Homo sapiens: one gene and its partners. The protein of the gene in region 1 purifies or fractionates together with the protein of each later gene. This does not show direct contact. Each region holds a gene or a part of one and is shown on either strand. Other genes may lie near its edges.

Region 1 (2,611 bases):
GTCCCTAAGGAATCCCAAATTGGTTTAATTCTCAAATGGAATGTGCAGACCCTTCTCCACACCTTGGCCCATTCAAAGTGCATCTTACAAATGTGAGTGAAAAATAACACTAAAGAGAACTCCCTGGGCATCCCACCACTGAAGGTGGATTTCCCCAGCAGACCATGACCAAGCTGGGGTTACACTGCCAGAAGCACCCCCACTCCCACCTCATTTGTGCAATTTTTATGGCCCTGCTCTTACCAAGCTCAAGGCCACATCACAGACCCTCCTGACCTCTCTGAGATCAGCAGGTGGCCTCCTGTCCCTGCCAATTCTGAAATTCTCAAGTTAAAACTTCTCTTTGAAATTAGAGGCCTCGCCCATCGTGGTGAAAGGTCACAAAATAACTATTCTATCCATTACGAAGTTTCTCATATAAAATTTTTCTTATTGTGGTTTAATGTATGAAAAGACTGTCAACCAACTTGCAGGAAACAATGAGACAGGCCCGCCATGTGTAAATTAAATTCGAATCTAGTTTATTTGCAGAATTTTACTTAACCAGTTGTCATTTCTTCCTGTTTCTCACCATTATATAAAAACTTACCCTTTGTACAAGTATGAAAAATGTGGAACAATGAATAAGTAGTGAATATTGCACATTTAATGTCCAAAATAAAGTTGTGGTTTTTAAAGGTCACACTAGATATGTGGGAAGAAAACGAGTTGAACACACTTAAGTATGTGTCTCCACATAAGTGATTTTAAACTATTGAAAGAAAAATAAATTCTATCAGTGCTCAATGAGAGACAGTACATCTGTACATTAAAAAATAAAAGTTATAATCAACAACATTCCTTCGCAATTTCATTATCCCAAAAGAGGATCAGTAGTATAATTATTTTTTTTTCAAGTTATTTTCATCAGGAATCAGGAACCTACCAGAGTGAAGGAAACCTCAAATACAGCTACTCCTGGACACTGATGCCCGAGGCATGCTGTGGAAACCGGACCAAAATGAAGTCTGCGTTAGTAAGTCTAGAACTTTACCCAGCACAACCCAGACACAAATGGAAGATGGTAGAAGGGGATACTTTCTTTTAATCAACACACTTATTTCCCAACATTATATTCTCCATTTTGCTTAATAAGACAAAGTTAACTGATCAGAAAAATGATCAGCTACTATCTCAAAATGAGCTGTACAGTTGGCCCAAAATGAAGAGCAGGCAGTAGTAGAGGATTAAGGGCAAAGTGCCTTGTTGTTAGGCCTGTCATGAAGATGTGGGGTGAGATCTGTCTTGGGCAACAACTGATATTAAGCTGAGGTCTGCAGTCTCAACTTGCCACTAGCTTAATGTGCCTCCCATGGGGCACAGCTACTGAAAGCTGATGCTGCCCAAGCATTTAGGGAGATAATTATGCCACTTGGACCACACTGGTGCGACTCTAACCCCAGGGCTGGGGCCAGAATGAGGTAAAGGAGGCACCACGGGGGTAAACCCAAGGAAGCACTCTCTTGGCACCTGCAAGCAAGCACCAACTTAAATGTATGCCCCAGGTGCCTCATTTGTCTCACCCTAGCCCTGGCCCTGCTAATCCGGGGCACACCCCTTTTAGGATAACACGGACTAATTTGGACACTTTCCCCAAACCGTAGCCCAGTTAGACATGATGGTGGAAAAGGTCTAACTAAAGACATTGCAGGGGAGATGGGCGCGGTGGCTCACGCCTGTAATCCCAGCACTCTGGGAGGCCGGGGCGGGCGGACCACAAGGTCAGGAGTTTGAAACCAGCTTGTCTCAATGGCTGGGTGAAACCCTGTCTCTACTAAAAAATACAAAAATTAGCCGGGCGTGGTGGCATGCACCTGTAGTCCTGGCTCCTTGGGAGGCTGAGGCAGAATAGCTTGAACCCAGGAGGCGGAGGTTGCAGTGAGCCGAGACCATGCCATTGCACTCCAGCCTGGGTGACAGATGAGACTCGTCTCAAAAAAAAAAAAAAAAAAAAGACATTGGGGGATTTAGCTTGGATTTAGCCTAAGAGGTGAGGGGTGGGGTGGAAGTGGTGTTAGACATGTGATGAAAACTGAAAATATCTAAAGGTCTGCCTCAAGGAGGGGCAAGTGAACAGCCCCAGCCTGAACTGCTCTGGACAGAACCACGACCAATAGGCAACGTAGAAACATCTTGGTTCAATAGAAAGCAGAACTACAGAGCCTGCGGATGGCAGCCTAGGCCTGCCCATCACAGGCTGGACCACCAGGCACTGGACAGGGGCAGAGGAGAGGCAGGAGGATCCCTGCAGAGTGAGAGGGGCACTAGATGAACGTGAATGACCCTTCTGACTGTAAAAGTCTACGATTCCAGGACATTTGCTTCCTGCTCCAGAAGAAAGAATTTCAGGAATAAAAACTCAGTGAAAAAGTATATATCACCTTCATTTGAAAGGAACGAGGACATGAACACTCTTGGCTTGTATGACATGTACACACTGATTTTGATGATGAACTGAGAGGAACCAGGAGGCCGTCACTTGGTTGAAAGGAAGTTAGGCTGGTCTATGGGTTTTCATTTTCTGGACTAGGCTTTCCCCAACCTCAAAGAAGTGAGAGACGCAGGCACACAA
Region 2 (3,500 bases), on another chromosome or scaffold:
ACGATCTCGGCCCACCGCAACTTCCGCCTTCCGGGTTCAAGTGATTCTACTGCCTCAGCCTCCTGAGTAGCTGGGATTACAGGCATGCACCACCACGCCCGGCTAATTTTGTATTTTTGGTAGAGACAGGGTTTCTCCATGTTGGTCAGGCTGGTCTTGAACTCCCAACCTCAGGCGACCCGCCCACCTCAGCCTCCCAAAGTGTTGGGATTACAGGCGTGAGCCACTGCGCCCAGCCTAAAAATATTTTTAAATGTTGATTAAGTGTGTACATCTTGGATTATTTTTCTTTAATAATAAGCACTTTTTTAATTATTATTATACTTTAAGTTTTAGGATACATGTGCACAACGTGCAGGTAAGCACTGGTTTTTAAAAGAGATTACACATATTTCAACCACATATGCATTTTTGTTTTGTTTTTAAATTTGGTCAAGTCAGAGAGGGACATTGCGTTCTTGGGTTTTGTTTAAATCAGATACTAATCTTTACTTTGCTATTTATTCACAGTCCTATTGATGTAGAGATTTTTCTGACTTATTCAATTTTTAAATAATTTCTCAACTTAGAATGACTTAATCCAAAGGAAGGGAACTTTTTTCCCTGACACTCAGAGAATCACCTCCACTTTAGGACTAAGTTTGCACTGCCCATTGTCTACATGTGGCTATTGAAATTTAAATCACTTCAGATTAATGAAAATTATAAAGTCAGTTCCTCAGTTTCACTAGCCACATTTCAAGTGTTTGATAATTCTATTTGGGCTACTGAACTGGATGGCGCAGAGATAGAACATTTCCATCATCACAGGAAGTTCTGTTGGACAGCACTGTAAGGGTGAGCTCAGAGGTTTTAAGTAATGTGCACTAATTGAATGATGTGACATTTTAAAAAGGCTCATCTGGAAATATATAACTTTTAGCTCTGAAGCATATCATCACTATATCATGGTTGGACAATGTCTGAAAAACATCTTTTCTTCAGAATTTAATTGGTTATGGTGCTAAGAATTGGGAATCTGGGCAATAAAATGGCCTGGAGGTTTTGCTTTGCCAACTGTTACTTATTTACATGACAATGTGTAGTACCTCAAAAAATATTGTCTCACTTTAAAATTTGAAATTACCATCCTAATTCCAAGGTGATATTATTAAACTTTTGCAGATTTCTAATTAGTTACACATTTATATATCTTCTATATTTAAAATGTTAGAAATGTTTGAATCAGATTTATATTTTCCAAATCCTTGATTTTCATTCACCTCTATTCTCATCTGTGCTATAAATGGCTTCCTGCTGCACTGAGGGATGGCAGAGATTGTGTCTGTCATGTTCATTCTTGTTTCCCCAGTGTTCAGCACTGTTTGTGGCACAAAATGGGTGCTCAATTGATATTTGTTGCTAGGCTCCACAGCCTCTTCCATGGCTTGACTTGTGTGAGTACTGTGTGTACTCTGCCATCAAACACTTTTTCCAAGAGTGGTCTTCAAAGGGGGTTTGTGGGGTTTTGTTTATTGTTTTGCCTTATCTGTTCATAAATTCTCACCCTTAACCAATCTCGTAACAGATACTGGGTCCCAAACTAGAGAACAAAAATTATGGCCAAATAATATCTCTAAAATCTCTGTTTTTAGGGAATAAGTCTGGGAACTTTAAGGGCTACCAAAACCCCAGTTTTATCCTTTTTATTTTGGACACTTTAAAGACATTTGGAAGTCATCATTTAAGCACGGCCAGAGATGTGGCTAACTTCCAGGAGAAATGAAATGGGCTCTTTGAGGGTGGGAGGGAACCATCTTTCTCCAGTGAAGTTTTTGTTGGAAAGATTAGCTGCTTTCTGAAAGCCAATTTCCTTTTTGGAGGAGGCATTATGGAAACCAGGAAAGCATGGGGAGGAGAATATTGGGAAGAGGGAAACTGTATGGAGTTAAAAAGTGCTGCATTTTTGTTTGCATTCAGGCACTTTTCTTAATTTATCAGTGCATTGGTTGCCATGTAAACAGCCAGCTTCTGGCAGGAAAGCAGCTGGACCAGGTGACCTGGCTGTGACAGAGAACACAGATATTGAATCCATGAAACCAAGAGTAATCAGTACAACGATTTTTTTTCTTTTACTTTTTAAAAGTGTTTGTCAATCCTTTAAGTTCTTTTTGTCTGACTGCTGTCATTAAGTAAGAAAAATATGAAATAAATAAGTCTTTGGGTATGCAAAATTGGGAAGATGGACAGGAATTAGTCCCTCTATGCAATTTCCTCTGAATCTTTCATAATTTCTGTATCCTCATCCCTTCACCCTCAACCCTCCAACACCCTCTGTTACCCTGCAGGCAACTAGGACAGCATAGAGAGCGTCTCTTGAACTTGACTTTCTCTTCCAGTGCTTGCCTGCCAATCCCGTGACCCATCCTGGAGAACTTTTATAGTCTTCGACAATGCAATGCATAGCAACCAGTTAATAAGATAAGACAGTGACTGTATAGTGCTCCCCAAAGTGCCATCACCTAAAATAGCCCTTTGGAAAGTGCTCATATAGAACTGAGAATTTTAGTGTAGTGGCAGGCTGGATTTGGGTAGGGTGCCCTTCGGTGGGCCTCCAAATCCTATGGGGAGCTTAATTACTTCATCTTTCTGTAAGGCCAACAGTTCTCAAAATTTGTGGTCTCAGGACAATTTTACACTCTTAAAAACTGAGGGAGATTTCTGGTCTGGACATGTAGTACAGACCTGTTTTTCATTGTTCCTCCCTGCTAAGCACAAGTATAAACCCTGGAAATAATGCAAGAGACAACCAGGGTAGAACTCTGGAAGGTTGTAAGGAGAAGGCAAACTGGTTTGAGACCCAGGGAAAAACAAAGAGCAAGGGTATCCTATGTTTCCCACCCAGCAGAAGAAAGAAACCTAGTCCTGGCCATTCCTGATACCCAACTGAACAACAGAGGGCAGCCCAGGTAAGCTTACTCCTCCCTCAGAGTCCCTCTGACAACATCAGGTAGGCCCAACACCACAGGTAAGGGGGGATCTTCAGAAACCCCACCAACAACAGTGGACAAAAGAAGCATTTGCCTTCTCCCCAGGCCTGAGATGTCCCACTTTCACCTAGAGATATCGAGGTGGGAGGGTAGAACAGACACGAGGCATAAAGTGATGGCAAGCGGCCCAGTCTGGGAAGGCTCTGTCTCAGTGGGTGTATGACTGTCCTCTCCTACCCATAGAGACACCAACAGTGCAGGGCGCCAGTAGAAGTGTCCCACCATACCTACCCCAACTGAGAGGCACCTGGAAGCCTGACCTAGGGAAACCTTTCTGCTCCTTCAGGCGATATGATCTGGGACAAATGTCAGCCTCAGTGATATCCGATAAACCAAACAGAGCAAAACAATACTGAAAATTAAACTGCTGTTAGAACAACAGACCACAAAAGTAAGCCAACACCTGCTTGCATGTGAAGCATAAATAATGTGACTGACTGCAAAAATAAAAAATGTAAATATGAGTTTCCT
Region 3 (3,500 bases), on another chromosome or scaffold:
TGTCAACAGCCACGTGAGCGAGCTTGGAAGCGTTACCTTTCCCCAGTTGAGCCTTGAGATGTCTGCAGTCTCGGCTGAAACTTTGCAGCCTGTGAGTGACAGACCTGAGCCAGAGGACCTAGCTAAGCCATACCCAGATTCCCAACCCATGGAACTATGATCATAGAGATAATAAAAATCTGTTGCTTTAAGCCATTAGGTTTTGGGGTAATTTATTATTTAGCAATAATGAATACACACATTTAATCCTCATAAATAGCCCTATGACATAGTACTGTTATGTGAGCCCCAACAAATGAGGAAACTGAGGTTTAGAGATGTGAAAGCAGTTAATGAATGGCAGAGCTGGGATATGAACCTGGCTTTCTGGACTCGAGAGCTTGGGCTTGAGCCCCATGCTGTGTTACCCCCTAGTAGTATAACACAAGGTGCAGTTTGACATCACAGGTGACAATGAATCACAATAGCATATTCTGTTTTGAGAAACTTCCCTGAAAGGAGGCTGAGGTAGACAGGGCATGTATTATTGTCCCCATTGTAACGATGACAGACCATGCAGCTCATACAGCCAAGAGAATGGGGTATTAACCCAGGCCTTCTGACCCCAGGTCCGTAGAGTTGGGCCTGTGCTTCACTGCCACGCTGGCACTGTGGCACTCACTGTACATTCAGCAAGCCCTGAGGAAGCTGGCGGGAGCTTAGCTGACATGCACAGGGTAGGTCAGTTTGTTCTCTGGAGAGCATTCCATGAGATGCAAATATCTTCACACAGGCCTGGGTTAATACCCCATCCTCTTGGCTGTGTGTAGACCCTCTCACCCTTAGATTCAGACTCATTTTACTAAACAGGCAAAACATAGCTACAAATTTCATGTATTTTAATATAACAGGACTATGTGGTAATAGTAACAATACTATGTAATCATTAACTGTTAATTAAATGCATGCTAATGGTACATAAGTCTGAGAAAGGGTACTCAGTACACTTAATGCAATGTGAGAGATTATCTCAAAGCCAATGGGACCCGGCTGGACATCTTTTGTGCTGGAGAAATTACTCCATCTGCATCACAAGAGCATTGCCTCTGTCACCAAGCTGAAAGTAATCAAGTCTTGTGAGCTTTGAGACTTTTGCTTCCTCTAAAGTCATTTTTCATCCCTTCTTGGTAAGATGCTTCATTTATATGTAAGTCACCAAACCCTGGGGTCAGTACAGTCTGGTTCTCCAATGCCTCGGACATAAAGTAAAACCTTGATGGTCTTAGAAACAGGCTTACTGTATTGCAGAGAGGGTGAGGAGATTACATTGTTTTACCAGTTTACAATCTATGAAATAAAATATGCTTGCCAATATGAATGCATCTTGTAAATGATGTATTTGCTAATTATAAATTAAGTTACATATTTAATCCTTGATTTTTTAGAGCATTGTGTAAGGAATTGAATTAGGTTCAGAAGGAAAGAATGGTAAGAAAGTTAAAATGGCTCAAATGAAAGCATAATAAAAGAGGAAATCATGCTTCTTTCTTTGAATGTTAAATTATGATGAACTATATGGTAGGATAGTGTTTATGGATGACTGTATATCAAATTCTTGTGTTAGGTAACAAATACTTCCTTGACTAGGGCAGAGTTCAACATTAAAATTAGGACTATGTAATAAAGTTTAAAATGTAAGGTACTTAAGTAAGTATACAATTCTTGTTTACTTACAGGAAAGAATTAATTACAATGACAAACTACACTGTCAGAAATCATATAAGGATAAATATTACTGAATTCAGAGGGATGAGTTTGGAATGTGGAATCCTTTTCTGTAGGTTCTTCTTCCTCCATCTTCCTCAGATGAGGTGGGCTTTCCTTTCCCATTTTTCTTGGATGCTAACAGCATCTTTTATACCTCTCAGGCATGTTTTCTGCCCAACAGTGTACAAGCGTAATATAAATCCCTATGATTATATTGTCGCTAACCAGGCAAGCTATTGTAGCTAGCCACCTTACTGGGTTCTCTTATTCTTTCTAATGGCATTTTTATGTATCCCCTTGAATTTTCCTAGTAGCTAATTATTTAATCTGTCATTAATAATAAAACTTTTCCCTGACCAATATTTATAACACTTCCCTCCTTCCCTCCTTCCCTTCCTTCCTTCCTTCCTTCCTTTCTTCTTTCCTTCCTTCATTCCTTCCTTCCTTGCTCCCTTCCTCCCTCCCTAATGGGGTCATTAGGAGGATCTGAGAGTTTTAGAACTGCTAGCTGCTGCTGCTGGTAGCTATTTCTCAAAATATTTTCTTCTTGCTATAAAATGCTTTCCTTCTCATACCAGATTTCATAAAGACCTTCCATCTGGTCTGCACTGATAACTAGAATCCAGAGATGCTCATTCCTCTTACAACTTGTAGTTTAAAATGATCCAGATGCAGAAGGATTAGGTTTCATAGCTTCTTCTAAAGGATTTTGTCTTCCTAATCCTACAACTGCATGTGTTGAGAATTGATCAGCATGAGAGAGTGCTAACAATAAACCTATTAAAGTGTCCAGTTTTTCATTTGACGTGTTTTAGGGGAATACAACAATGGGATCAAAACACTGACATCTATTCAGGTAAGGACTGCAGTAAACCAGATAATCCACAGTGCATGAGACAAAATAAGAGAACTAAAAATGAAAGACAAAATTATAGTCAATCTGTATTAGAAAGAGGGTTCTCAAGAATTTTATCAATTTGTTGTGATCCGGGAATATGCCAATTGATTGAGTGATCTCTATAAATTCTGGTTCTCAGTTTCTTAATCCACAAAATGTGGGAACGAATAAAAAGTAGCTGGGATTTTGATGAAAGTCCTTTCATCACCAGGAAGATGAACTTTGGTAAGTTGACTGACCTAAGCCCCAAATTTTAGGGGCCACAATACTGGTTCTAGAAAATGATTCAGGGAGGAGAAAACAAGAGAGAAGTAAGTCACTCTAAAGTGCTGCTGCCCCATTTCTCTTCCCTGTTCATCTGTCCCCTCGTCACTTGTGACGGCACACTCATCTTCAATGTTTCCCTGGGGTTTATGTTCATATAATTTCACATGTAATAAAAATCTGGTAGGTGCAGAAGAAAGGAGCATAAAGCATGAGATGCTAAACTCACCTCTGCCTTGAGATGGCCTTGATAATTTACGGCATAAAAAGTAAGTTCCTATTTGGTAGAAATTCAGCTTTTGATCAGTCTCAAGCTTATTTTTTTGTGTAAATAAGCTTGTAGAAATAGAGGGAATGCTTTCCCACATTAGAGCGTTAGATTTGATCTTTCACTTTTAAAGGGTAGTGCAGAAATAGAATTCCAGGGTGGGCAATCAAAACAAACATGAAAAAAATGATCTGTGTGTAAAAGTGAGATGTAGGGAATTAGACTTGAGTAATGAGAAGATGACACAAAAGTTCAGGGCCTGAGGCTTTCTGCAAAGAGACCTACTTTCTTTTTCTTTCTTTTCTTTTCTTTTTTTGAGACAAG
Region 4 (3,500 bases), on another chromosome or scaffold:
ATGGTCTTTCTCGCCCAAGAGAGCCTGGGATCCAATTCCACGTGATGTCCCAGCACCCCTGGAGAGTCAGAGCTCTTCTTTGCGCTAAACCAGCTCAGGTGTTGGGGCTGGTGCAGGCACATGCCGTGTAGAAGAAGACAGACAAAGACCCAGCCTGCTCACCACCCACACAGCAGGGAGGGGGCTCAGCGGCTGACACCCCTGTAGGTTCCTGGGGTCCACACCTGCATCTGCTGCTTGGTCTCCAAACGGTCTCATGGGTCAGGCCAGTTGCCTGCTTCCTGGACTCCAGATGGACTTGCCATGGCTGAGGCTCTCCATGGGGTAAAAGGACGCGGAGAATGGGCAGGAGGTGGGGAACTCCCGAATCAAGCTGCACCCTTGTGTTGGGATGGGCTGGACCCCATCTCACGGAGCCTCCTTTCCGCACCTGGGCCTCCCGTGGTCCTTGTCCTGAGTCAGGGAAGCCTGAGTGTGTTCCAGGGGCCTGATGGGACCTCCTTCTCTATCAGGGACTCACAGAAGCAGAATAGGGGTGGGGTCCCACCAAGCCAGGCCAGAACAAATGTGCCAAAAATCACCTTGGTCAGCAACAGGGTGGGGTGTGTGTGTGGGGGGAAGTGGGCACGGAGAGTAGCTGACTTGCAGGAGCCCCAGGCGCTCCTCTGAAAGAAGAATTCCAACCACAGCAACCACAGTGCCCCTGAGTGAAATAAACAGAAATTTCGGCGTGCACCGGGCTACGGAGACCAGAACCCCTGGAGGAGAATGGAGAAGGCCAGAACCACAACTAAGGGACGATGTCAGCAGGGAGAAGAGCTGGGAATGGGGCTCGCAGTTCGCCCACGGAGGATATCCAGAAACCGAGTCGGGTAGGCGGTGGGGCTGGTTGAATATCCACCCTCGGGTATGGACAGGTGTGAGGAGTGTCTAAGGAGCTCGGGGGTGACAGCCCAGCTCTACTAAAAAAAATACAAAAATTAGCCGGGCGTGGTGACACAAGCTGTCCCCTGACACAGAGAGGCAGAGGCACCCTCTGCAGGATAACAAGCACCCTGTGCGCTGCTGGGCTTTGCTTGTTTCTCTACCCTGAGTGAAGCCTGGAGACCCTTCCTCACCGGTGCCTCTGCAGTGCCTGGGAGGAATAAAGCCTGGAGACCCTTCCCCACCGGGCCTCTGCAGTGCCTGGGAGCAACGCAGCTGTTCTCCCTGAACCTCTGGCACCGTGGCCTCTCCATGCGCCCCTGGATCTCCAAGCTGCGCCCCCGGCTCTCCAAGCTGCGCCCCCGGGACTCAGAACACACTCTCCTGCCTCTGGAGGCCGGGCCTGGTGGCTCCCTCCATCCCTTCAGGGTGCGCACCGGCCTCGGAGCGCACGGACGTGGTCCTGGCGGAGAAGAGGCTCTCGCGGCGCGTGTCCAGGGTGTCTCTGGGCACCCGGCGGCAGCCCAAATATTCCCGCAGGCGCAGCTGGAATTCCCGGGACGCAAAGTAATAAACAAACGGGTCCAGACAGTTGTTGAGGCAGCTGAGACACAGCGTGAGCTTGTACACGTGGTAGTAGCTCTTGCCGTAGAACAGGCGGCTCACGATGTGCGCCAGGAGCACGAAGTTGTTGGGGGCGAAGCAGGTGACAAAGGCCAGCAAGACCACCGCGGCCAGGCCCACCGCGCGCCTCCGCTGCTCCCGGCCGTGCGCCTCCTCCGTGCGCAACAGCTTGAGGATGGTGGCCGTGTAACAAGCCACGGTGATCACGAACGGGATGAGGAACAGCAGGATGAAGATGGTGAAGAGGAACACGGCCCACATGGCCACGCTGGGGAGCATCGTCCACTTGAGGACGTCGAAGCAGGTGATGATGCCCAGGGCGTGCACCGGGTAGGTGAGATCGGTGCGCGCCAGCGGGGACAGGGCGGTCAGGAGCAGCAGCCAGGTCCCTGCACACGCGGCCACCGCGTAACGACGGCGGCGCCAGCGCTTGGAGCTGAGCGGGTACAGGACCCCCAGGAAGCGCTCCACGCTGATACAGGTCATGGTGAGGATGCTGGAATACATGTTTGCGTAAAAGGCCACGGTCACCACGTTGCAAAGCAGCACCCCGAATACCCAGTGGTGGCGGTTGCAATGGTAGTAGATTTGGAAAGGCAACACGCTGGCCAGCATCAGGTCCGTGACGCTCAGGTTGATCATGAAGATGACCGACGGGGATCTGGGCCCCATGCGCCGGCACAGCACCCACAGAGAGAAGAGGTTGCCCGGGATGCTGACCGCCGCCACCAGCGAGTACACCACGGGCAGGGCCACCGCGATCGCCGGGTTCCGCAGCATCTGCAGCGTCGCGTTGTCCGGGCCGGTGCTGTTCGGGACCTGCATCCTGGAGGGGTCCTCGCCCGGGCTCTGCAAGGGAAGGAGGGAAGGGTGTACGGGTCAGGGGCGCAGGTAAAGAGGCGGCTGCCGGGAGGGCTCCTGAGCGCCGCTCCCCGGGGACCAAGGCGGGGGAGATGCTTTAGCAGGGCCTGCTGTCTCCTCCCTCCCTCCCTCCCTTAGTTCCTCCTTCCCTCTCCTCCTTCCTTCCCTCCCTCTCTGCCTCCTTTCTTCACCCTGTGTCATTCTTTTCTTCTTTCCTGTCTTCTCCCCTTTCTTCTTCCTTCCTCCTCTCTCCTTCCTTCTCTTCTTCCCTCCTTCCTTCCTTCCTTCCTTCCTTCCCGCCCTCCCTCCCTCCCGTCCTTCCTTGGATCAGGGAGGTCATTGGAGACCTCGGCCCACGTCAGAGGCTGAGACTCTTAGATGATCCACAGTGGGGCTGTGGCTCCCCTGGGCAGGTTGAATGCATTGTCATACAAACCTCAAGACTCAGTGTCCCCCGTGGACGGAAACCACAAAGCCACCGTCAGCCCCCAGGGTGGTCTTAATGGGAATTCTTGACACCCTGGCAGTATTAGTCTGGGTATGAGTCCTCTCATCTCAGGGGCATCCACCCACAAAGTGTCTATCAGCAGAAAACACACACTCCGAGTGCCAGGAGACCAACCCGCAGCCTCCAAAGTCTTTCCAGCTTTTAACACCCGCGTCAACCCACGGCTCCTCCCTGCTCTTTCTTCCTCCAGAGGAGACCTGCGACTTCTTACCAACTGCTCTACAAACAGCTTCCTCAAGCTGGCTTTAAAATGGCCCGGAGTTTTCGTTTCAGTTTCAGGGAGAAGTTTTCTGACCCGCCGGTCCGTGCCCAGGTGTGAAACCTACAGTTATGCACGAGTCAGCACCGCTCCCCACGGCCAGCTGGGCACCTCCAGCCACCTATGGCTTCAGGAGGAAAAGCAGACCCTTCCTTCTTTGGGTTCCGCTTGGTGTGGCCGTGGGGGACGTCTGGAAGGAGAGACGCTTTATCCATGAGCTGGTGATGAAAAAGTGTCTGTCAAAGGGACACTACTTTTATTTTGAGAATGTAAAGTGGACAGAGCTGGAAACAGGGGTGCCCTGGAATTGTTCTTTTGTTTGTT

What was found. Proteins that work in one complex are often made in the same cells at the same time.
Region 2: the proteins of EPG5 (region 1) and VSIG1 purify together in Homo sapiens (co-immunoprecipitation; one large-scale study listed by IntAct). This does not show direct contact.
Region 3: the proteins of EPG5 (region 1) and HTR1E purify together in Homo sapiens (co-immunoprecipitation; one large-scale study listed by IntAct). This does not show direct contact.
Region 4: the proteins of EPG5 (region 1) and P2RY8 purify together in Homo sapiens (co-immunoprecipitation; one large-scale study listed by IntAct). This does not show direct contact.

The regions. Positions count from the first base shown.
Region 1 is NC_000018.10:45,847,109-45,849,719, forward strand, and holds the end of EPG5 (ectopic P granules protein 5 homolog), read right to left. Parts: 3' UTR 501-2,611; downstream 1-500. UniProt on the Homo sapiens protein: Involved in autophagy. May play a role in a late step of autophagy, such as clearance of autophagosomal cargo.
Region 2 is NC_000023.11:108,048,065-108,051,564, forward strand, and holds part of VSIG1 (V-set and immunoglobulin domain-containing protein 1 isoform 2 precursor), read left to right. Parts: intron 1-3,500.
Region 3 is NC_000006.12:86,940,528-86,944,027, reverse strand, and holds part of HTR1E (5-hydroxytryptamine receptor 1E), read right to left. Parts: intron 1-3,500. UniProt on the Homo sapiens protein: G-protein coupled receptor for 5-hydroxytryptamine (serotonin). Also functions as a receptor for various alkaloids and psychoactive substances.
Region 4 is NC_000023.11:1,464,186-1,467,685, forward strand, and holds part of P2RY8 (S-geranylgeranyl-glutathione receptor P2RY8), read right to left. Parts: intron 3,034-3,500; exon of another isoform or gene 2,846-3,033; intron 2,398-2,845; 5' UTR 2,374-2,397; coding exon 1,294-2,373; 3' UTR 1-1,293. UniProt on the Homo sapiens protein: G protein-coupled receptor for S-geranylgeranyl-glutathione (GGG), an endogenous metabolite present in lymphoid tissues.